Linked DNA regions of Homo sapiens. The protein of the gene in region 2 purifies or fractionates together with the protein of the main gene of each other region. This does not show direct contact. Each region holds a gene or a part of one and is shown on either strand. Other genes may lie near its edges. The genes, in order: NFS1, PAX5, HLTF, BEND3, UBN1, XRCC1 and UBN2.

Evidence for each region.
Region 1: the proteins of PAX5 (region 2) and NFS1 purify together in Homo sapiens (affinity purification with mass spectrometry, with the first as the bait; one large-scale study listed by BioGRID). This does not show direct contact.
Region 3: the proteins of PAX5 (region 2) and HLTF purify together in Homo sapiens (affinity purification with mass spectrometry, with the first as the bait; one large-scale study listed by BioGRID). This does not show direct contact.
Region 4: the proteins of PAX5 (region 2) and BEND3 purify together in Homo sapiens (affinity purification with mass spectrometry, with the first as the bait; one large-scale study listed by BioGRID). This does not show direct contact.
Region 5: the proteins of PAX5 (region 2) and UBN1 purify together in Homo sapiens (affinity purification with mass spectrometry, with the first as the bait; one large-scale study listed by BioGRID). This does not show direct contact.
Region 6: the proteins of PAX5 (region 2) and XRCC1 purify together in Homo sapiens (affinity purification with mass spectrometry, with the first as the bait; one large-scale study listed by BioGRID). This does not show direct contact.
Region 7: the proteins of PAX5 (region 2) and UBN2 purify together in Homo sapiens (affinity purification with mass spectrometry, with the first as the bait; one large-scale study listed by BioGRID). This does not show direct contact.

What each region holds. Positions count from the first base shown.
Region 1 is NC_000020.11:35,692,853-35,696,352, forward strand, and holds part of NFS1 (cysteine desulfurase isoform a precursor), read right to left. Parts: intron 1-3,500.
Region 2 is NC_000009.12:37,027,769-37,031,268, forward strand, and holds part of PAX5 (paired box protein Pax-5), read right to left. Parts: exon of another isoform or gene 1,152-3,500; intron 320-1,151; exon of another isoform or gene 177-319; intron 1-176. UniProt on the Homo sapiens protein: Transcription factor that plays an essential role in commitment of lymphoid progenitors to the B-lymphocyte lineage. Fulfills a dual role by repressing B-lineage inappropriate genes and simultaneously activating B-lineage-specific genes.
Region 3 is NC_000003.12:149,045,034-149,048,533, forward strand, and holds part of HLTF (helicase-like transcription factor), read right to left. Parts: intron 3,131-3,500; coding exon 2,995-3,130; intron 1,227-2,994; coding exon 1,047-1,226; intron 1-1,046. UniProt on the Homo sapiens protein: Has both helicase and E3 ubiquitin ligase activities. Possesses intrinsic ATP-dependent nucleosome-remodeling activity; This activity may be required for transcriptional activation or repression of specific target promoters.
Region 4 is NC_000006.12:107,070,516-107,074,015, reverse strand, and holds part of BEND3 (BEN domain-containing protein 3), read left to right. Parts: intron 1-3,065; coding exon 3,066-3,500. UniProt on the Homo sapiens protein: Transcriptional repressor which associates with the NoRC (nucleolar remodeling complex) complex and plays a key role in repressing rDNA transcription.
Region 5 is NC_000016.10:4,857,481-4,860,980, reverse strand, and holds part of UBN1 (ubinuclein-1), read right to left. Parts: intron 2,992-3,500; coding exon 2,905-2,991; intron 2,414-2,904; coding exon 2,318-2,413; intron 1,957-2,317; coding exon 1,822-1,956; intron 1,117-1,821; coding exon 1,013-1,116; intron 318-1,012; coding exon 1-317. UniProt on the Homo sapiens protein: Acts as a novel regulator of senescence. Involved in the formation of senescence-associated heterochromatin foci (SAHF), which represses expression of proliferation-promoting genes. Binds to proliferation-promoting genes.
Region 6 is NC_000019.10:43,548,028-43,551,527, forward strand, and holds part of XRCC1 (DNA repair protein XRCC1), read right to left. Parts: intron 1-3,500. UniProt on the Homo sapiens protein: Scaffold protein involved in DNA single-strand break repair by mediating the assembly of DNA break repair protein complexes. Negatively regulates ADP-ribosyltransferase activity of PARP1 during base-excision repair in order to prevent excessive PARP1 activity.
Region 7 is NC_000007.14:139,306,487-139,308,736, reverse strand, and holds the end of UBN2 (ubinuclein-2), read right to left. Parts: 3' UTR 501-2,250; downstream 1-500.

The DNA.
Region 1 (3,500 bases), on a different chromosome or scaffold from region 2:
TTAGCTGGGTGTGGTAGCAGGCTCCTGTAATCCCAGCTACTCAGGAAGATGAGGCAGGAGAATCGCTTGAACCCTGGAGGCAGAAGTTGTAGTAAGCCAAGATTACGGCACTGCACTCCAGCCTGGGTGACACAGCAAGACTCCCCCTTGGGAAAAAAAAAAAGAATTAACAGTATCAACTTTGCAGAACAGGATCAGGGACTGGGGTCCTTGGGGAAGGAGAGGAAGATTTACACTTCATTTTATTTTATTTTTGTTTATTTATTTTTTGAGACGGTCTCATTCTGTCACCCAGGCTGGAGTGCAGTGGTGTGGTCTCGGCCCACTGCAACCTCTGCCTCCCGAGTTCAAGCAATTCTCTTGTCTCAGCCTCCCGAGTAGCTGGGACTACAGCCACCACACCCAGCTAATTTTTTGTATTTTTTAGTAGAGATGGTGTTTCACCATTTTGCCCAGGATGGTCTCGAACTCCTGAGCTCAGACAACCTGCCTGCCTCGGCCTCCCAATGTGCTAAGATCACAGGCTTGACCCACTGCACCCGGCCTACACTTCATTTTAAATCTTTCCATTGGTTTTAAAAAAACACACCATATGTGACAGAATTATTTTTCAAAAATTAAAAACTTGGAAAGAAAATGTGCATCTCTCCCCAGAGCTTATAAAAGACTATTACCTTTAACAGCAGAATAAAAAGCCAGGTGCAGTGGCTCAAGCCAGTAATCCCAGAACTTTGGGAGGCAAAGGCAGGAGGATCACATGAGCCCAGGAGTTCAAGACCAGCCTGGGCAACATAATGAGAGCCGCATCTCTACAAAAATTAAAATAACAGGCCGGGCGCGGTGGTTCACACCTGTAAAACCAGCACTTCGGTTGGCCAAGGCAGGCGGATCACAAGGTCAGGAGATCGAGACCATCTTGGCTAACATGGTGAAACCCCATCTCTACTAAAAATAGAAAAATTAGCCAGGCGTGGTGGTGGGAGCCTGTAGTCCTACCTACTCAGGAGGCTGAGGCAGGAGAATGGCGTGAACCCAGGAGGCAGAGCTTGCAGTGAGCTGAGATCACGCCACTGCACTCCAGCCTGGGCGACAGAGCCAGGCTCCATCTCAAAAAAAAATAAATAAATAAATTAAAATAACAAAATTAGACAGGCGTGCTAGTACACGCCTGTAAGCCTAGCTACTTGGGAGGCTAAGATGAGAGGATTGCTTGAGTCCAGGAGTTCAAGGCTCCAGTGAGCTGTGATTGTGCAACTGCACCCCAGCCTAGGTGACAGAATGAGACCATGTCTTTTTTTTTTTTTTTTTTGAGACAGAGTTTCGCCCTTGTTGCTACAGTGCAATGGCGCAATCTCGGCCCACTGCAACTGCAACCTCTGCCTCCTGGGTTCAACTGATTCTCCTGCCTCAGCCTTCCAAGTAGCTAGGACTACAGGGGTGTGCCACCACACCCAGGTAGTTTTTGCATTTTTAGTAGAGACGGGGTTTTACCATGTTGGTCAGGCTGGTCTCGAACTCCTGATCTCAGATGATCTGCCGGTCTCAGCCTCCCAAAGTGCTGGGATTACAGGTGTAAGCCACTGGGCCCGGCTGAGACCCTGTCTTATAAAAAATAAACACATAAATAAAATAAAAGCAGAATATTAAACCATATAGGACAAAATTATAACTATGTAAAAATGGTCTGTTCATGAGGACAAAGAACATAAATGAGAAACATTTATAATTGATTTATACTCTATTTTATCCTAAAAAGTATTTACATCAGTAAGTAAAAATGGTTGTGGGGCACTTTGGGAGGCCGAGGAGGGCGGATCACGAGGTCAGGAGATCGAGACCATTCTGGCTAACACAGTGAAACCCTGTCTCTACTAAAAATACAAAAAATTAGCCGGGTGTGGTGGAGGGCGCCTGTAGTCCCAGCTACTCAGGAGGCTGAGGCAGGAGAATGGCGTGAACCCAGGAGGCGGAGCTTGCAGTGAGTCAAGATCGTGCCACTGCACTCCAGCCTGGATGACAGAGTGAGACTCAGTCTAAAAAAAAAAAAAGAAAAAATGGTTGTGGGATGGTGATGATAGTTCAAAATGTTACAGTTGTTTATAAAAATTTCATTTAAATGACATTTCACCACCCACCCACCTTATTTTATCTCAGTTACCCATGATGTAGATTTCTTTAACAATTTATAGATTATTTTACTCTACCAATCATGGAGATTAAAAGAAACATCATCACAGGTACTCTTAGCGATCCTTGACCTGTTGGTTTGGAATCTGTGGAGACTTCCAAAGAAAATATTTTCGAAGTTTTGAAAATGCTCTCCATTTCAGAAACCATCTCCACCTTTGGAGGAACCTTCACCCCGACTCTCTGGTCTCTGCAGTCCCAAGGAAGGATGCCTTCCTGTTAACATGATCAGGCAGAGTGCTGATGACCCTGAAGCCCGTCCTAGGCCTCCTATATTCAGGCCAAGGTCAAAGAAACCAACACTGGCAGCACAGTTCAAAGACAAAGATGAGAGCAAGTGGAGCCAGAGTTCAAAGTACAGCAAGCCACAATTTCTCAGAGCCTTGGCATTTACTCACATAATCCTGGCAACCAGGCCCAGTGAAATCTGACTATGTTCTATGAAACACCAACGTGACTACTAAAAGTACCTTTTCCTTGCATTAGCACCAAAGATCTTCTATGTACCCAGGACAAAATGACTGATCCCAGAATGGGTGACCATGTGAATGCCTGCAGAGGGCACCACAAAGACAAGCACTTCAAAATGGAGATATCTAAAGAAACAGGAGGAACTTGTTGCAAATAGATCTGATCAGAAAGAAAAAGGAAGGCTGAGAGGAGGACAGCCCTGAAATCACATATATAACTTGTTGTTACTAGATAAAAAGAATGGAGAAAGGCCGGGTACGGTGGCTCACACCTGTAATCCCAGCACTTTGGGAGGTCGAGATGGGAGGATCATCAGGTCAAGAGATTGAGATCATCCTGGCCAATATGGTGAAACCCCATCTCTACTAAAAATATAAAAATTAGTTGGGCATGGTGGCGGGCACCTGTACTCCCAGCTACTCTGGAGGCTGAGGCAGGAGAATCACTTGAACCTGGGAGGTGGAGTTTGCAGTGAGCTGAGATTGCGCCACTGCACTCCAGCCTGGCGACAGAGTGAGACTATGTATCAAAAAAAAAAAGAAGAATGGAGAAAAGGTTCAATCACCATTATCCACTCTCTGAAGTAACTGCCAGACAAAAAAAAAACAAGTGGTTAATGGCCTGAGGGCCACCTCCTTTGCTATCCAACTGCCTCACTCAACTCAGACCAACAGCAGCAAAGACTTAAGAAAGAGTAGACTGCAAAGGGTTAAAGGAAGCAACAAATCAGAAAGACTGCAAGCCTTCTCTTCACAATGGGGTGGGGATGGATGGCTGCGAAATACATATACGAGTCCAAATGATGGAGGGACACTATCTCCTAGGTCAGGAAAGCCCACATA
Region 2 (3,500 bases):
CTCCACCAAGCCAATCAGAGTGGCGTCAGCCGGCCCTGGCCCGAAACACCGCCCCATTGGCTAAGCAGCCCACAGGCTCCGCCTGATTAGCGGACACCTGGGCAATGGGAGAGAATGGGGGGCGGGGCCCAGGCGGCGGCGCCACGTTCATTGACAAACGCGCTGGACTAAGGCCTAGTGGATCGCGGCTGTGGGGAGGGGAAAGGGGCCCACGCAGTGCCTGGAGAGTCCCGCTGCGGGTCCCACGCGGGCTGGACCTCCCCACAGCGATGCTGGGATCCTGGGACGCTCTCAAGGCTTGAGAGCAGTCGATTGAAGGGTGAGAATGGGGGAAGTCTCCAAAAAAACCAAAAAACAAAAAATGTATGTTGGAGGAAGACAAGGAGCGCAGTAGGGATCCTGTACCATCAGGCTCGTGATGGGATCGGATTGTGTGCATCGGAGTGTGTGCATATCTGCCAGTTCTGACCTCACTTTCCTCTTCTGTAAAATGGGCAGAGTGGGGTTAACTAGATTTTACTGAAGGCTCCTTCCACGGAAATATTTCCTAATTTTATTTCCTAATTTTATCAAGTACCTACTAAACCACCACTGGCTCCTCGTCGTCCACCCTCCTCCCTCACTCCACCTGCAGGGCCCTCATTGCTGCATTAACGAAAGGCAGAGACGTTGGGGGAAGGGGGAGAATATCTCACACTCCTTTAAAGTTAGTAACTGGGGCGCACCAGGGCGCACCTGGGTGGAGGGGCTAAGGCTTTGGGCCAGGTTGCCCAAGCAGAGTGGCTGGCCCTCTTTCCTGCCTCAGATCAGGAACTGCCAGAGGCTTTGGGAGCTGGTGTTGCGCTTCTGTCCACCGGAGAAATTCCGCACCCGGCTCAAGGCTTCTTGAGAACCGAATGAGCCAAGTCGCGTCCAGGGCTAATAAGGGTCCCTGAAGCGGGCGGGTGGACAGGCGCATTCTATCTGCAAGGGTCAAGCAAAGCGGCCAGGCGCGCTGCAATGCGGCAGCTTCCAGTTGATGGGAAACTGACCTTCCCTCTACAGGGGAAGTTCCTGTCCCTATGTAGACAAAATGGATGGATTTGTAGCAGAACTCTCTTGCTACACAAGGGATCTTTGACTAGCGAGTCCGCTTCTTTGTGGGTTTTAAGGCTCTGAGACAACAATCAAAGAAACTGGACCTTGAAAAGGAAGCGTGTGACAGTCATTCTTCACCCAAGAAGCTATAGTTCTGTGAGCCATCTGGGCCCTGGCTCAAGAACGACGCTGAGGATTCCCTTGCCCCAGCAACTCATGGGAGTGGTCCGAAGACTCAATTTCTATTTCATGAGTGATGATCCGCTAATATTAAACATAAATCCACAAAACAAGGGCTTTGAGATGCCTGCTCCAGGACTGGGCTTGTAAGGAAGAGTACAGGCTGATCATGAGAGGATTCCTGGGTTATCCTCTTGTTTTATTCTCTGCCTCGGTTTCCCTTCCTCTGCCTTCTCTCTACGCATGCTCTACTTCTCAAACTCCTACACTGGGGTCGACTCTTGGGCCCACCTTCTGTCCCTGTTCCACACCCAGCTGTCCCTGACCAGTAGACAAGTTTCCGGCGCTGACACCCGTCCCCACCCCCCACCAGGGCACAGCTGCGGAAAACGGCCCCAGGCGGGACTCTGGGGACCCAGGAGGCTGCAGTGCGCGCCGGGGTGGAGTGGCGGCGTTATCTCTTCTTTGTCTGGAACCCCGCCTGTCCGGATCTTCCCCTTTCACCCCCGGCCTTGGAGCAGGAAGATCGCAACAGCAGAGAGGGACTGGGATGGAATAGACTTCCTGCACTGGCTTCACCCGATGGCGCCCAGTGGGTCGGAAATAACCAGAATTCAGATCCTCGGCCCAGACTCAACATGGCGGCTTGCACACCTACTGGAGAGGCGGGAGTGCGGGACGCCCTGAGGGATGCAGCCAGTGACACCCCCACCCCCAGCCTCTCTTGCTGAGCTCAGGCCTACAAACCCAGGTTCTCTAGATTCTTAGAGCTAAAAGGGCCTCGAAGCTATGCTTTCTCCATTTCACGGGTGCAGAACCCGAGGCCCAGAGGCAGGATACGACTTGTCCAAAGTCACACAGCAAGTCTGGGGTAGAAGAAAGGCTGCGGGCTGGAAACCTTTCTCAAAAGCGCCTCTCCAGAGCCGCTCTCGGGATGGTGGGGGAGGGGCGATGCTGCCAAATCGAAGAACTCGGCTGGAATATGCCCGCACACGCAGGTTTTCCTTCGGATACCCGTGAGGCTTGCATAGAATCCCCGGGGCACGGCCCGAGCAGGAGTAGCGCCGATTCTCCCTTTCACACAGTAGGTGTTCGGCTTCGGGACAGTGTTCTGCTGCGTGGCACACACAGGACCCGTCTTACCTGTGCACCCAGAGCAGCCCCTTCCCGCAACTCTCGGCGTTCTTGGGGGAAGGAGTTTCCCTCTGGATAGGGGTGATTCATCACCGCCCGAGCGGGCGGCCTCTGGGAAGTTCCAACCCCAAAAGGCGCGACCGGACCTCATACCGTGACCACCTAGCCCAGCCTTACAGGTCACCAAACGACAGCCCAGAGAGGTTACGTGACTAGCTCGAGGCTGCACAGCAAGTCCATGGTGGAGCCGGGCTACTGCGCCTCAGTCCTGTCTCTGAACGCCCACGAGCCGCAGCCTGGGTCCAGGAGAGCGAGACTAGCAGCTCTCACCGCGGCTCTCAACGCAGTCGGGCCTCACTCTGATCTACAGTGATGCGCTTTCTTTCTCCCAGTAACAGGGCTTTGGGCCGGGCCCTGTGCTAGGCGCTGGGGGCAGGAGACCGCGAAAGGAAACTATCCAGGAAGAAACTCAATTTATGTGAACCGAATTGCCTTTGAAAGTTTTAGTACTGAAAGACAGCCCATTGAGAATAATGTGTGAGAAGCCAGAGACCTCGTTTCACTGGGGACACACCCCCTCCCGGCTTCCCTTTCCACGCCTCCCAGCGCACTGCATTACCGTGGCTTCAGGATGTGGGGGCTGCTACAGTGTTCTAGTAGCCTGACATCGACTCTCTCAACCCAAGTCCAGCCCATTTCCCTGTTCTTGCTTCTGACAAAGTGAGGCCCAATAGGGCTCAGACTGGTTGCTCAGTTCTGGAAAGATCAGGGATGCTGCCAGCATGGCTGTCTCAACCCACTGAGTTCTGTCTAAACTTCATTTTTAAAAAATAAAAAAAATTAAGTATCAGAGGGAAAGAAATTGACCTGAAATTATACAGCAAGTGGAGGCACAGCAGATTCCTGCATGATTCCTGCCCCTGGATCAGGAGTCTGCTCTACTTGACCTGTCCCTGTTTTCAGGAGTTCTTGAAGAGGATGGAGAAAAAATGAGAATTTAACCAGGTTTTTCAAGAATCATGTAAAATCACCTTAGTCGGGGTGTGTTATCATTACCAGCATGTCCTGCAGGCCAGGGGCGCTGGGACTACTCTCTCTCCCAAAGACTT
Region 3 (3,500 bases), on a different chromosome or scaffold from region 2:
TTTCCTGTCATAAAAAGTAAAAGCCAAAGTCCTTGACATATGCGTTACATACCCCCATTCCAATAAATCTCTGATATCATGACTATTTTCTCTCGTTCATACTATCCAGCCACACTTGCTTCTCTGTTATTCTTCAAGCTCACCAGGCATGTTCCCAACTGGGAGCATCTACACTTGCTCTTCCTTCTGGCTGAAACACCCCTTAATCCCAATCTCCTTTAGATCTTTACCTATATATCATCTTCTCAGTGAGGTCTTCCTTAATACCCTACTAAAACAGCTTTGGCATTCCCCATCCCCTTTCGTTGCTTTATTCCTTAAAACTTAATCATGTTTTTAAATTATCTGTTTCTTCCCATTAAAATATAAATTCCTCGAGTGCAGGCATTTTTGTCTGTTTTATTCTGCTGTATCCCAATGGGTATAAGTGCCTGGCACACAGTGGGCACTTAATAAATTTTTGTTGAAAGAATATGAAAAGAAAGAAGATTTTGAACTCAGAAATCTGCTGCTTAGAACAATCTTTCCCACTCTCTCTAATTCCTATCAAACCTGCTTTGTACCTACCTCACTGAAGTTTTTATGTTTTGAAGATTCCCCTTTCACAGTCCTATTCTGCTTTCACTTGTCTCTTATTCATTCTGTTCCCTGTGGGCTCACATTAAACCTGATCTTGCTTGGACCAGAATTTCATACCTTCTACCAATCCTTAATCTTCTTGTTAAACCTATTTCATCAGTTCCTATTTCCAGATTTCCATACGATTTTGGAAATAGAAGCAAGCAAAATCTTCTGGCTAGCAATTGAGAACTTGTCATTTAAAGTAAGCTTTAAATTATTTCCTAACTTAAAAAATTACTTACCTGGTGAATTATACTATTATTTCATTCACTTTATTGATTTGTAAAAAACACTGTAATTCATAGAAGCAAATTATCTTTCAGTATACTTCAAACTATTGCTAACACATCTAAATAATGTCATTCAGTGAATGGGAAACAAAGTAAACAAAAACTAATTTTTAACATGGTTTTCTTTCTCCATACCTTCCAATAGTGGCTCTGCCTTCATTTTTCACAGACTGATAAATCTTTCTCTCTTCATCTGAAAGTGTAATGTGCTGAATAAATACTTTACGTTCTGGTAACTCCAAAACAGGTTTTCCTTTAATTTTGCTTGTCTTTGTTCTTCTAAGTGTAATATTTTTAATTAGGGACTGTAAACGCCTAATCAGAATAAAACAAATAATTATGTAACTTTTAATTTCTACATAAATTGATCCAAGAAGAACGAAACAGAACATTTTAATTTGTTACTGTTTTATAGCTTCTGTAAAAGTGTTTTTAAAATCCCTTATTTGGGATTTTAACCAATCTGATAATCACAGAAGTATTCTACAAAAATAAAATTATTAAAACAAATGTATGGAAATTTCCCCTCAATACCTAACATAGTTTAATCTTTTTATATCCTGTCCTTATTTTCGTAAGTTCTGTTCCCCATTTTTGTTCCAATCACTAACTCTTTTACTTCTCAACTGTCCTGTCAACTCCATCACCGAATAGTCAACACTCAAATTCTAAGTATCTATTAAGTGCCAGGCACTGAATTAAATGTTGTAAGAATACAAATATGGGTAAGATACTACATTCTGTAATATTAAAATCAAAAGTATATAAATAAGTAATTGTATAAAGTAATGAGTGCCCCCAAAATAAAAAGATAATATGGTAATTCAGAACACAGAAAAATGCTTTACAGGTTCCACAATCTTTACATTTCTTTCTCAGTACTGGAAAAAAAGAGATGTATCAATTCTTGTTTTTTCCCAACATTGAAATATAAATACAATTTCCTGGAGTTTAAATAGTTGGTTTTGAGGAATCAAGTGGATAGTACTGCCAACTAGGTTAGTGGCTCTTGAAGCTTTCTCACTATAACTCACAGTAAGAAACACATTCTATCCAGCAAAAATATACAAACACATACAAAAGAAACAAATATTTCACAAAATAATACTTACTATGTATCATGCACTCCGATATTTACTAATCTCTTCTCTATTTCATTGTCTTTTTAAATGCTGGCTACCACCTTTATAATGATTTTATATCCCACTAATAGCTCTCAAATCTTCAGTCTATAAACCGGTGCTTTAGCCAAAAAGTTGAACCACATTACATCTTGCAAAATGGCTATCACTGAGTTTTAATTTATGTTCTCAACTTTTATCTATCTCCACCAGAAACAACCACATAAAACTTTCCTATACAACTTTTGCTAAGGTCATGGTACCTCACATCATTCACTATATAAAGCTATGTAAGGCCAGGTGTGGTAGCTCATGCCTGTAATCCCAGCACTTTGGGAGGTCGAGGCAAGAGGATAACCTGAGGTCAGAAGTTTGAGACTAGCCTGGCCAACATGGCGAAACCCCATCTCTACTAAAAATACAAAAATTAGCGGGGCATGCTGGCGCAGACCTGTAATCTCAGCTACTTGGGAGGCTGAGACAGGAGAATCGCTTGAACCCAGGAGGCGGAGGTTGCAGTGAGCCAAGATCGCGCCACTGCCCTCCAGCATGGACGACAGAGCAAGACTCCATCTCAAATAAATAAATACATAAATAAATAAATAAAGCTATATAAGATATGAAAACTTAATGCATATTAGATCCTCAAAGGATATACGATGTTTCCTGCTAAATCTGTTAATGCTGGTTTTGGGGCTTTGGGGCTTAGCAACACACAAAAAACAGTTATGTCTTTCCTTTCAGTTTAGCCACAACAGGGGAAGGGTAGTTATCGACAATTAGAAATCTTTGTCTTTCCAAACAAGCATCACTAGGTTCTGAAAGACAAAGGTACTGAGCCATAAACACTTTTTAGAAGGAAAAGTTAAGAGTCAAGTTAAAATAGTAAAGAAAGTGCCAACTGGTTCAAGCTACTAACAGTTATTTGTAACTAATATTAATCACTGTCTGAAAGTACTTACCTAAGTCCTCCTTCATCTCCCATTGTGACAGGACGCTGTATTGTTCTATGCCACCATTCTCTATCAATAAATGGTTTAAGTTTTAAAAAGGAAAGAAGAGACCACAAGTCCTTTAAAGAATTCTGGATTGGAGTACCTAGAAATAACAGGAAACTGTTATAACTCTTTAACCAGAGTATCCAGTAAGAGTATCTATTTGGCCCAATCAGAGAAGACAACAATTGAAAATGGGCACTCTGTACCAGGCTCATCATTATCAATTAAATTAAACTATCAAGTGTTGACTATAATCATTTATTAAAAATATACACATCTCAAGATACAGTTTTGCTCTAATTTTTAGCTCTCACATGACACACTAGCCAAGAAAAAGACTGGAAAATTCAACTTTCTCCTTATCAAGTACATCTGCTTATTTAGTTTTTAAAGCAGCAGCACTAGCAGAAGGAAAAAGCAACTAGTTTAAGTTTACATTCTTTTCCTTACCTTCTAGTAAAGGTACTGTG
Region 4 (3,500 bases), on a different chromosome or scaffold from region 2:
GGAAGGTGAGGCTTACAAGGTCACAAACAGAATGCTTGCTGATTGAGCTGAGTTCTTAGCCACACCTTCATGCCAGTGCTCTTATCAGAACAGCTCCTTTTCTTTTTTTTCTCCTTTTCTTTTTCTTTCTGAGACAGGGTCTTGCTCTGTTGCCCAGGCTGGAGTGCAGTGGTGTGATCTCAGCTTACGAAGCCTCAATCTCCCAGGCTGAAGCAATCCTCCTACCTCAGCCTCCCGAGTAGCTGAGACTACAGGCACACACCACCACTCCCAGCTTATTTTTGTAGAGGTGGGGTTTCACCATGTTGCCCAGGCTGGTCTTGAACTCCTGGGCTTGAGATCCCCTGCCTCAGCCTCCCAAAATACTGGGATTACAGGTGTGAGCCACTGCACCTGGCCTCACTTTTCTTAAGCATGTATTTGAGAATGGTGGAACACTTTGCCCTGCTTTATTCACGTGTGGTTGACAGAAATTCATTGACCTCTTCTGTACCCTGGGCACTTTGCTAGGCACTGGGGATAGACTCAGGAACAACGTGGTCCCATCGCACAACCATCATGCAGTTTGACAGGATGGGGACAGCTTGGCAAGGAGACCCCAGAGGGAGTGGGGCAGGTGGCTGGCCACCCCTGACAGGCTGCCTCCACTCTGGTATGTCCTTGGTCCTCTGCTCCTGTGAGTGCTGTAGAGGGGAGGGGTGGGGAGTGGGGTCCACAAGGGCCAGTTGCCACTGACCATTTGCTCACATACATATATATATATATATATATATATATATATATATATATATATATATATATATATATATATATACATACACATACAAACCCTGAAGGAAGTATTGGCCAGCTCTGTGATAACTAATGCACTTACGAGTCCCTTTATAAGGTCACTAAGGGAGTAGTTTTTCTTTTGCATGGTTGTCCTCATGGGGGCACAAGAGAAGAATTAACATTTCTCTAATATGAGTCAGATTATTCTATTATCCAAAAGAGAGAGTCTAGGAAGTAATTTATTAATTATTATTGAGATGGGGTCTCACTCTGTCACCCAGGCTGGGGTGCAGTGGCAAGATCTTAGCTCACTGCAGCCTCCATCTCCCAGGCTCAAGTTATCCTCCTACTTCAGCCTCCTGAGTAGCTGGGACTACAGGTGCACACTACTGTGCCAGGCTAATTTTTTTTGTATTTTTTTAGTAGAGACAGTGTTTCGCCATGTTCCCCAGGCTGGCGGAACTTCTGAGCTCAGGAGATCCACCCATCTTGGCCTCCCAAAGTGCTGGGATTACAGGCGTGAGCCACCACGCCCAGCCGTTCATTAATTTAAATGAAAAAGAACACATGGAAGGTTCAGAATGATGAAAGTTTTCTGTTTATTTGGGCTCTTGGTTTCTATTCCCCCTGGATCTGCCTATTCTCAGCCTCATATAGCTCACTTGCTGTACGAAGCCTCGCTTCTGAGGTTGTCTCTTTTCCCTACGTTGGCTGAGGCTGCAGAGAAAAACACCTCATGCACTGTTTTGTGCTGGCATTAGTTACCTGAAAACTTTCAAATAACCCTGATCTGCCTGGATGAGATAAACTGAGAGCAAACACTGACTGCCAAGCCCTGGCTACTCAGAGAGGATAGACAGCAGCCACAGCACCCAGGAGCTTATTAGAGATGCAGGCCCAGGGTTCACACTCTGCATTCCAGCAAGACCCCAGGTGATTCAGTGTGTACACTAGAGCTTAAGAAGCGCTGGGCTAGGCCAGTCCCAGCCACCTGTACTCTTCCCAAGTGTGGAGAGAAGCACCCCAGGATGCCGTTTGTTCTTGTCCATTCCCAGTTGCCCGAGGCACATGCCTGTCAGTGGGAGCAAAGGCTCCCTGCTCCCCCGACACCCACCAGCGCTCACTGACTAGCTCATCTGCTTTCCTAAAACTCAAATATACATTTACATAAGTATCTGGGTCGAATTCAACATTTGTCAAAAACAGGCTTATTAGGTTATGGCTGAAACTCAAAGAAGGATACATATTTAAGGTATACAATTTGATACGTTTTGACACGTGTCTACCAGTGAACCCACAGCCACAGTCATGATGATAAACATCTGTCACCCACTGACGTTCTCCATTTCATTCTCTGTGTCCCATCGAATTCTCCCTGCCATCCCTAGGCAATGACTATCTGCATTCTGTCACTATAGGCAAGCTTGCGTTTTCTAGAATTGTACATACACAAATGGAATCATACACTACGACCTCTTTTTTGTTATTTATTTTGAGATTTATCATGAGTACTTTGTGTACTGTATCAATAATATCTTATTGCTGAGTAATATTCCATTGTATGAATATAACATAGTTTATATACTTGTGGATTTTTCAGAAACGGGGGGTTGTTTCTACTGTCTCACAGTTGCACAGGCCAGAAAGTTCTGGGCCGGCTTTTTCTGGTCTAAGATGTGATTTCAGGCAGTGGTGGAGTTGGCATCAGACAGCCGCTCTCCACAGCCCAGTTCTCAGGTGCCCCGACCATGCATCCCAGATGAGCCTTCCCGAAAAGGGACGCCTGCTCTCCCAAAGGCTGCAGGCTAAAAGGACACACTGCTGCCTTTGGGAGCTACCATAGGTAGGAATCTCTGTCCCTTCCTGAGAGCAGACGAAGGCACGGGTCCATGGGGTGACCTGCCCGTGGCCGGCAGCTGCACAAGCCCGTTGCCTTCCTATGCTCTTCCTCCTGTTTCTTGCAGAGTTCTTGCCCAGTATTGCCAGCATCAGTGTCAGCCCTCTGACGGAAAGGAAGTCCACTGCTGGTGCCCTGTGAGAGCGCAAAGCCTCCCTGGGCCCAGCCTGAGTCTTTTCTCAGGGAATGGGGAGAGCAGCAGGTTTGGGGTGGTGGGGATGCAGGTTTGTATCAGTGGTGCATCCTTGGATGACAGAGTGATTCAGGGTGAGGAATCAGTTTCTTACATGCTCCCAAGGTTGACCTCGGCCTCTGTGTGCTACACAGACCCTTGTTTAGTGTCATAAACCACAGCACCCACCTAACACTCTGGGAAATGATTTTTGTTTTGCAGGCTCTCCTAGCAGGCATGCGGAACCGTGAGAACAGCTCGCCCTGCCAAGGCAATGGTGAGCAGGCCGGCAGGGGCAGGAGCCTGGGCAATGTGTGGCCTGGAGAGGAGGAGCCCTGCAACGATGCCACCACCCCTTCCTACAAGAAGCCTCTGTATGGCATCTCGCACAAGATCATGGAGAAGAAGAATCCTCCCTCGGGGGACCTGCTAAACGTGTACGAGCTCTTTGAGAAGGCAAACGCCAGCAACAGCCCCTCGTCACTGCGGCTCCTGAATGAGCCACAGAAGCGGGACTGTGGCAGCACCGGGGCAGGCACTGACAACGACCCCAACATCTACTTCCTGATCCAGAAGATGTTCTACATGCTGAACACCCTCACGTCCAACATGTCCCAGCTGCACAGCAAGGTGGACCTGCTCTCCCTTGAGGTGAGC
Region 5 (3,500 bases), on a different chromosome or scaffold from region 2:
GGAAGGGACTTCCTTCTGGAGACTCACTGAGCAGATGCTCCAAGTCCAAATCCGTCAGCGAGTCCATGGCAGTGGCCGCCTGGAGCAAGTCGTTGTCAGAAGTAGAGCCAAAGAGTGAGAGCAAGGGGTCAGAGGCACCCTCCAGTTCCCGCAGGCCCTGAGCTTCCGCTGATGGGACCGCAACAGGCTTATGCTCCTCCTCCCTTTTTTTCTGAGCCTCTTTCTCTTTCTGAAATTTCTTTAGCATCTCTTTAACGCTTAAAGCCCCAGAATATTTCTTCTTCTTCTTCTCCTTACTGGCATTGAGGGCTGTGAAGCTGCAAGCAAGAGGGAAACTGGTCACTCAGACTATAGGACACCTCCAAAGGGAACTCCAGAGGCCTTCACCCCTGCTCCCAGGGTCATGGTCTCCAGGAGAACCTGTCACAGTCCACCCTGTCATTCCTCCTCCCTCCTCTTGGCATATGGAGCTCGTTCTTGCTGAGACCAAAGCTTGAGAGTTAATACAGGTTAGCAACACAGTGTCACATATGCTAAATTTCCGACGGGTTTTTAGAAACCACTGCCAGGCTGAAATAAAAGGTTGCAAAAAGGGGCAGGGAGAGCAAGAAAAGTATTTAGAGGGAGAAAGCAGGAGCAGCAGAGAACAGCAGCAACTTGAAGAGAAGCTGGGGTGAGACCAAGTGAGGAGAAGGAAGCATGACCATAGACAACAAGGGAAAACAGCGGAGACAGAAGGAGAACTGGGGCAGAGAGGAGCACCCCAGAGGACGAGAAACATCAGCAGTCACACAGTGACAACAATAGCTGCCAACACTGACAGTGGAACTATCTGACACACTGAGAGGTGAGCGTCTATGCCCAGAATGGCACTGCGGGAGGCGTGCGGGAGGACAGGAAGGCCAGGCCCTGCTGCCTCTTCCGAAGCTGTGGGGAGGAGGTGAGTCAGCTCCCAGTCGTCCTGCCCTAACAGTTCAGGCTTTATCCTAGCAAAGAAGCTGCTGCCTCTCACCCGGCTTTGGAAAACTTGGACTTTTTCGATTTCTTCTCCTTGTCATAAGTGTCATCTTTTTTCTTCTTCTTTATCTTCTCACCACCTTCCTTCAACTTCCGCTTCTGAGAATTAAAGACAAGGCACAGTTACACGGCTCCCTAACTCAGGGAGCAAGTGCACTACACGGCACTGGCCTTGCTCCGCCCGGGGCACATCCTGAGACCTGTCTCATTTCCTTCATGAACAAAAGCTCTCAGATCAGTCCCTGGACCACAAACCCACAGCATTCCCACCGACGGTGTCTCCTGGAAACACCCAGGGCTGAGACAACAGTGACCATTCTGGAGCCTGAAACCTTTGTAGTTTGAAAGTTACAAGTGGGCCCTACCTCTCATCTTAAACACATAGGCAGTGGTAGACAGGTTTTTAAACACACTGATCCTAAGGCTGACTGGTTTTCAGTGGGATGGCAGCCCTGAAACTGAAGTCCTCTACATGTCCACAGAAGAGGGTCAGCAAGAGTGGTACACATTCCCTCATTCCACAGCCTTCCCACCCTGAGGCCACCTCCAGAAACGACCCCTGCTGAGCCTGCTGGGATGTCATGTGACATGGACATAATGACCAAGTGCTGAACAGAGCCCCCACGGGCACGTGTCCTCATTAGGGCACACGTGTAAGAGGCGAGCCATCAACCTGGCACGGCTCTGCCTTTCCACCATCCTCCTGAGCCGGCCAAGCGCCACGTATTCTGGCAAGTCACCTACTGATCTGATAGGGTCACGTCAAAAAGCATTTCTGAAATCCAAAAGCAAGCACATTCTAACCTTTGGAGATTTTTTCTTCTTTTCTTTAATGAAGTCATCTTCAGACTCTGATGCTTGTCTAAACTGCAGGGTTCCCGAGTTAATGTAAAATCCTCCATACTTCGTAGTCAAAGAAGCAGGAACAAGCTCATCATACTGAAGATGGGAAACAAACTGTCAGCTCCAAGTTCTGCTTCTGCAGTCCGAAGGTGCAAAGTGGGTCTCGAGAGAGATGTGACTGTGCTCCTCTGCCACTTCCAAGAGCATGCTAAAACATCCTCTGGTCAAACATGAATGTCTGAGCTACAAGGTGTTTTGGACAGATCTGGTCATCACTTTCTGAAGAGGGAACTAAGACCCGGATAAAGAATGTCATTTCGTCTCTCATCAGTGCTGCTACTGCCTCATGCTGGGAAGAGGGCACGACTGCTCTGACCCCACCCCCAGCTTCCTGGTCAGTATCAGGAGGAGCTACAGGTACAGTGGGTCTGACACGGCATTTTCAGTAACTACTTACCGCCTCAGAGTTATCGATGAAGGAGTCGGATTCATCATAACCATACCCCATATCGATCAAGTCCTGTATTCGGTCTTTTCTACGTTTCTTTCCACCCTAAAATGTGAAAGCAATAGATTACATGCTTTTTGAATAAACACACAGAATTAACTGTGGCCTTGAACTTCATCAGCTATGACTCAAAGAGGTAATGCACTAACTAAAACAGTCACTCTCTCACATACACACAAACCCCAAAACCTCCTTTCCTGAAAACCTTTTAACATAGAACATATTTGTACCTGTATAAAATGTCCTAGGACAGAAAAATGAACTAAATGGCTTCTTATGCTTTGTACCAAAATATTTCTTCTAAGGCGACCACAGGCCCTTCTCGGTTATTTGTCCAGTTAGCTCTTCACACTAGCTCTGCCATGCCCCTTTTCTGTACCTTAATGCGTTAGGTTTAATAACTGCTTCTCTTCTCTCCATGCTTAAGGCTTACTTCCAGATCAGTGTTTATTACATGATGATCCACTAAAGGAATACAGTGTGGAAACGTCTCCCACCCAATGAGGTTGTTTTGTTATTCAAGAGAGAAATCTTACGTATTTTTCTTCAAATTTTCGGGCAAGGGCCTCTACTTTATGCCTTTCCTTTTCTTCGTCATTGAAAGGATCTGACAGATCTTTCTTCTGTAAAGAGATCGTTCCACAAAAAATAAGTCAGAAAATATTCCCATGTTCTTATTCATAGAAACTTCACTGATTACTCAATACCTCTATAAAAACAATGTTTTCCAGAAAAGGGCAAGGTAGAAAACATGCTACCATCTCATCAATGTTTATCTTAATTAAGAAAGTAAAATTTCCCTTAATGTAGGTTAATAAAACTTGATTGAATGCCTACAATCATCCACCACAGCATGAGGGGCTGCAGGACTCAAAGACAGCAAAGGGCCTTTAGAAGGAGATGCCCAGTCGCTACACAACCACGTTCAATAAAGTGGACTTCCTTTGTAACTCTTAAAATTTTCTTCAGGCATTTAAAAACATTCTAAGAAAGAGTCCATTGACTTCCAAAATAGTCAAGGGCTCAAAAACGTGAAAATCCCACTGAATGTGGTGCAAGTTCTTGAGAGCCGTTCTGCCATACTGTTTAGAAAGGTCTGAATTTGCACTTCTCTCGGTGCTACCAAAGTTAA
Region 6 (3,500 bases), on a different chromosome or scaffold from region 2:
CCCGTCCGGGAGGGAGGTGGGGGGCCAGCCGCCCCGTCGGGGGGGAGGTGGGGGGCCAGCCGCCCCATCCGGGAGGGAGGTGGGGGGGTCAGCCCCCGCCCGGCCAGCCGCCCCTCCAGGAGGGAGGTGGGGGGCGCCTCCGCCCGGCCGCCGCCCCGTCCGGGAGGTGGGGGGCGCCTCTGCCCGGCCGCCCCTTCTGGGAAGTGAGGAGCCCCTCTGCCTGGCCACCACCCCGTCTGGGAGGTGTACCCAACAGCTCATTGAGAACGGGCCATGATGACGATGGCGGTTTTGTGGAATAGAAAAGGGGGAAAGGTGGGGAAAAGATAGAGAAATCAGATTGTTGCTGTGTCTGTGTAGAAAGAAGTAGACATGGGAGACTTCATTTTGTTCTGTACTAAGAAAAATTCTTCTGCCTTGGGATGCTGTTAATCTATGACCTTACCCTCAACCCTGTGCTCTCTGAAACATGTGTTGTGTCCACTCAGGGTTAAATGGATTAAGGGCGGTGCAAGATGTGCTTTGTTAAACAGATGCTTGAAGGCAGCATGCTCATTAAGAGTCATCACCACTCCCTAATCTCAAGTACCCAGGGACACAAACACTGCGGAAGGCCGCAGGGTCCTCTGCCTAGGAAAGCCAGAGACCTTTGTTCACTTGTTTATCTGCTGACCTTCCCTTCACTATTGTCCTATGACCCTGCCAAATCCCCCTCTGTGAGAAACACCCAAGAATGATCAAAAAAAAAAAAAAAAAAAACACAACAGTAGCAGGTTGACACTTACATGGGACTTCCTACATGCCAGGTAGCACGTGACAAATACTGAGTCACTGAATCCTGGGGTAGGTCCTATTTTTGGCCCCATTTTACAGGTGAGGAGACTAAGGCACAGAGAGATTATTTAATCTGCCCTAAGCCACAGGGAAGGTATGCAGACACAAATGAATGTATTAGCTCCATTTTTCTGAGACATACATGTTAAGACCCTTCTGCATTTAATTTGGTTGTTTTCAAGCTGGTGAAATGCTGTTTAGGTAAGTCACACTCATAAAACGGTGCCTACAGGAGATTCAGAGGATTTAAAATGTAGTAGTTCATTAACAGTCAATAGCAGGTTTACTTAACTTTTTCTTCAAAGTGCTCTATTCAAAGATTAAAAAAAAAACTAAATTTGTGCTTATTAGGTATGGAGAGTCATCCTCTTGGGGTCTTCCTTCTATAGTTGAATTTTTATTTTATTTTTATTTTTTGAGACAGAGTCTCGCTCTGTCCCCAGGCTGGAGTGCAGTGGCATGATCTCGACTCACTTCAACCCCTTCCTCCCAGGTTCAAGGGATTCTCCTGCCTCAGCCTCTAGAGTAGCTGGGGCTACAGGTGTGCGCCACCATGCCCAGCTAATTTTTGTATTTTTTGGTACAGATGGGGTTTTACCATGTTGGCCAGGCTGGTCTCAAACTCCTGATGTCACGTGATCTGCCCACCTTGGCCTCCCAAAGTGCTGGGATTACAGGCGTGAGCCACTGCACTCAGCCAAATTTTTATTTTTGAGATAAGGTCTTGATTTGCCACCTAGACTGGAGTGCAGCGGTGCAATCATGGCTCATTGCAGCCTGAACCTCCTGGGCTCAAGTGATCCTACCACCTCAGCCTCCCAAGTATCTACGACTACAGGTATGTGCCACCACACCTGGATAATTTTTTTCATGTTTTGTAGGGATGGGGTCTCACCACGTTGCCTGCATCATATAGTTATTTTTTTTTAGTTTATAAATGAGTACAAGCCAGAATTTTTAAAAATATAAAATGCTTTGTGAATTCTTTTTGTTAAGACCAGTTGCAAATCCAACACTGTTTGTCTTTTTCCCTTTCTTTCATGCCCTCCTTAAGCTCTCCCAGGCAGATAATAACCCAAATCTGGTTCCTTCTGCCCCAGATATAGCACCAGCCCATCCCCTCTTCTGTTCCTGAGGCCCCAGCCTACTCAGGAGTCCCCACCTGCAGCCTCCCCTTGACACTTCATCCCTCCCAACAGAGCCTGCCCCTGCCCCCATCAAACCTTCTGTGACTCCCCTCTGCTCACAAGAGGAGGCCTCTGGAGCTGGATGGGCTTCAGAATTTTGAATCTTTCAGGTTTTAGAGAGGCAAATGGCTGGCATACAGATTGTTACATAAACTCCCAGGAGGGCCTGGGGGAGCACCCCATGATCAAACCCACTAATATTTCTGCAGTTAAGACCATGACACACTTAAGGGGATAAAAAAAAAAAAGTCCGCAAATAGCCTCACATTAGTTCAGGATGACTGCAGCGAAATGAGTTTGTGCTGAACCTAGAAAAGAACTTTCAGCTTCTAGAGATGTTTGGATTCCTGAATAACAGATGAGGGTTCTGTGAAGCTGCATGGAGCCCAGTGTGTAGCCTGGGCTCCGGAAGCCCCTTCTGACCTGAGCCCACCCACCTCACAGCCTCGCTATCCCCCAAGGCAAATAATTTCTCAAATACACCAGGTACAACTAACTTCTGAACACACTCAGGCCATGGAGTACAATCCAGTCTCCCCTCCAATTCATGGACCTCAGATATGAGCTAGCCTTTGCTCAGTCCAAAGCCTTCTGTGGTTCCTAATGCCCCAGTCCCATTTTTCCTGCCACTTCTTGCCCCTGTGTAAGCTCAGCCTCACCTACAACTCCAGGCAGACAACAGGCTGACCTGACCTTGTCTCCTCTGCCCAGCATGTTCTCTGCCTCTGTTCAGCCTGAAAAACCTCTCTTGGACCTTGAAGACCCCTCGCTCTCTGCGGGCCACCCTGTGGGGCTTCCACTGCACTGTTACAACAATTCTGATCCCTCATCAAAGTGAGAAGCCTTCAAGGGCAGGGCTCAATGACTGGATCCTCAGCCTTGCACATTCCAGCCTGGCACCAAGCAGGGGCTTCTGGGACTCATTTTGGTTTTTGGGTTTTTTTTTTCTTGTTGAGATGGGAGTCTCGCTCTGTCACCCAGGCCAGAGTGCAGTGGCACGATTTTGGCTTCCAGGTTCAAGCGATTCTCCTGCCTCAGCCTTCCGAGTAACTGGGATTACAGGCGTGCGCCACCAAGCCCAGCTAATTTTTGTGTTTTTAGTAGAGATGGGGTTTCACCATGTTGGCCAGGCTGGTCTCGAACTTCTGACCTCAAGTGATCCACCTGCCTCAGCCTCCCAGAGTGCTGGGATTACAGGCGTGAGCCACTGCACCGGGACTCACTTTGAATGAATGAATATGGACCCTAACACTTGTTCTCCCACCCCTGAGTTTTTGCACAAACTGCTCCTCCAGCCTTTTCTGATAAGCAGGCTTCACAGAGCCCTCTGTGACCTCCCAGGCAGGTCCTCCTTCCCTCATCTGGAGTACCCCAGCCCCTGCCCCGCTCCTCTCAGTAGTCTGCTGGCTCTGGGCTGGGACCACCTGTGTTCTCCGCTGGCAGGCCCCAGTCTGACTCCCCTCCAGATTCCTGGCATTG
Region 7 (2,250 bases), on a different chromosome or scaffold from region 2:
TTTCAAGTCCTGACCGTAGTAGCACCATCAAATACACACATACCCTATTACCCAAAAAACCTAGAGTGAGTCACAATCAAGGACTCCCACGCTCTGCCTTCCTCTACTTGTCCAAACATGCCCCTCACAGCAAATGCTCCACCTTCCTGATTTGGCCAAATTCCACCAGTTCTTGGAGGCCCACCTCAAGTGCCATCCACTGCACTGAGTCTTCCCACATTACTCCAGTCCCGTTTCTTCCCCACTGTGAACTCAAATGTCAGGTAGCAATGGAACACAAATGGACCAAAATGTAGCTTTGTGACAGATTTTGAACCATTATCTTTTAACTTATCATGTGACTGCAAATTGTGAGTATACTGGGAGGCAGGAGACTGGGTCCTTTACTTCTTGTACCCTATAAACCTAGCACAGTGTGATATGGACAGCAGATACTCCCCAACAGCTGAGAGTGTGATGTTAGAACCCAAGGTAACTCAATAACACAACAGACACGAGGATAGTATGTACATTCCTCTTTATTTAATACAACAACAAACACGTAACATATACAAAAAGAAAAAACACTCATTAAAAGGCCCTGTCACAAAGGATAGACAGGAAACATCTACACTGAATCAAATAAGGCTCTTGCTTCAAAAACAGGGGTTTGCTAGCTACACCTGGAATATGAGCAAGGCTGTTGCAAAAAAATTAAAAAAAAAAAAAAAACACAAAAATCCCTGCACTGAAGGAGTATATTCATGGGGGTAATTTACTAAATTCACAGGTCCATATTTAGGAATGTTTATGCCCTCTCACATATCCAAAATTCATCAGGGTTTTATGAAATGTGTGATTTTTTTTTGGTTAAAAAAATTTACCTGCCCTTCTTTTTTCTTAGGAAGGAGTGATAAGAGCTTTCTAAAAACTAGAGACAAGCAAACCATCCAAAGTGTGAAATGTTTTACCATTAAAGTTCAAAGGGCACGTAGAACTGAGAATGCAAAGGCAAGATGGCAGTGGGAAGAAGAACGTGACTTCTGCGTCATTTCCTGGTAGCTAGCGTTTAGTTAACCAAATGGAAATACCTCGGCTCAGTGCAGGGTTCAGTAGCAGCAGTTTGTCCATATTCCTGCTCCGATTTGAGCTGGAAATTAAACAAGCACCAGTTCATCTCAAAAGAGCCTTATACAAACACACACGCACACATACCCGCACCCATTCACATGTCATCACCACCCCCTTTTATTTAAATTTATTTTTTTTTTTTTTTACTAAAATACAAAAAAGGGAGACAGGTATATTTACAAAAATCCATGGCTGGTACAGTACATAATTTTTAAGACACACTAAATGCTACAATCTTTCAGGTCCTGAGATTATTACAAACATCAACTCAAAGCTTGTGTTCAGGTCCAGTTTTTAAAGGAGGAAAAAAAAATCCCAAAATATTAAGTCACACACTTATTTGAAATACAGTATATCCCTTCAAGTTAGCAAAAACACACCTCCCTATAAGCAAATGCAATACAGTAATTCTTGTCTTTCACCTAGAGGACCATCAACTCTTTAGGCTCCTTCAAGATTGGTTTTGAAACATGTTGGCATCTATGTCAAGTGTGGAGGTGGCTAATGTATGAGGAAGATGTAACTGGAGGGAAGTTCCTCTGCAGAGTGAACATTCACTGTATAAATACATCCTGTTTTTCCTTGGGCTACCAAACAAGTCTTTCCCTTATCAAAATTCACACCGAAGTATGTGTTTACCCAGACTAAAAATCAGAATCATTATTTCCAATCAGTTATAGCAAATAGGTCTGGAGTTCGGTAATCATTTTTACAACTGCAAATGAACTTTCTTGCTTGTAATAAAAGAGAGAAAACATCCATTACTTAGTTACCTTGGTAGACTTGGATTAATATATTATTTGGGGCACAAAATTTTCACCAGCTGGAGATCTATTTTCTTCTTTTAAGTTTGAGGGTGTTTAACAAGTGAAATCCAAGGGCAAGCCCCAGATTTACATACTCTCTGAAAGACCAATTTGGTATTTTTGATACTTTCTGAAATAAAGTAAGTTTTCAATGACAATCAACAAAAGGGCAGTGCAAAGCTTGAATCTTTTCTCTGGAGGCTTGCCATGGATCACAGGAAATACTTGTAGGCTGGGAACCTACCTCTAATGGGGAAAGGCCCATTGATTATCTGAAGGTCTCAGAAGGTATATGTAACTAATTACAAAGGCATAGCCAAGACTCAAAAATAGG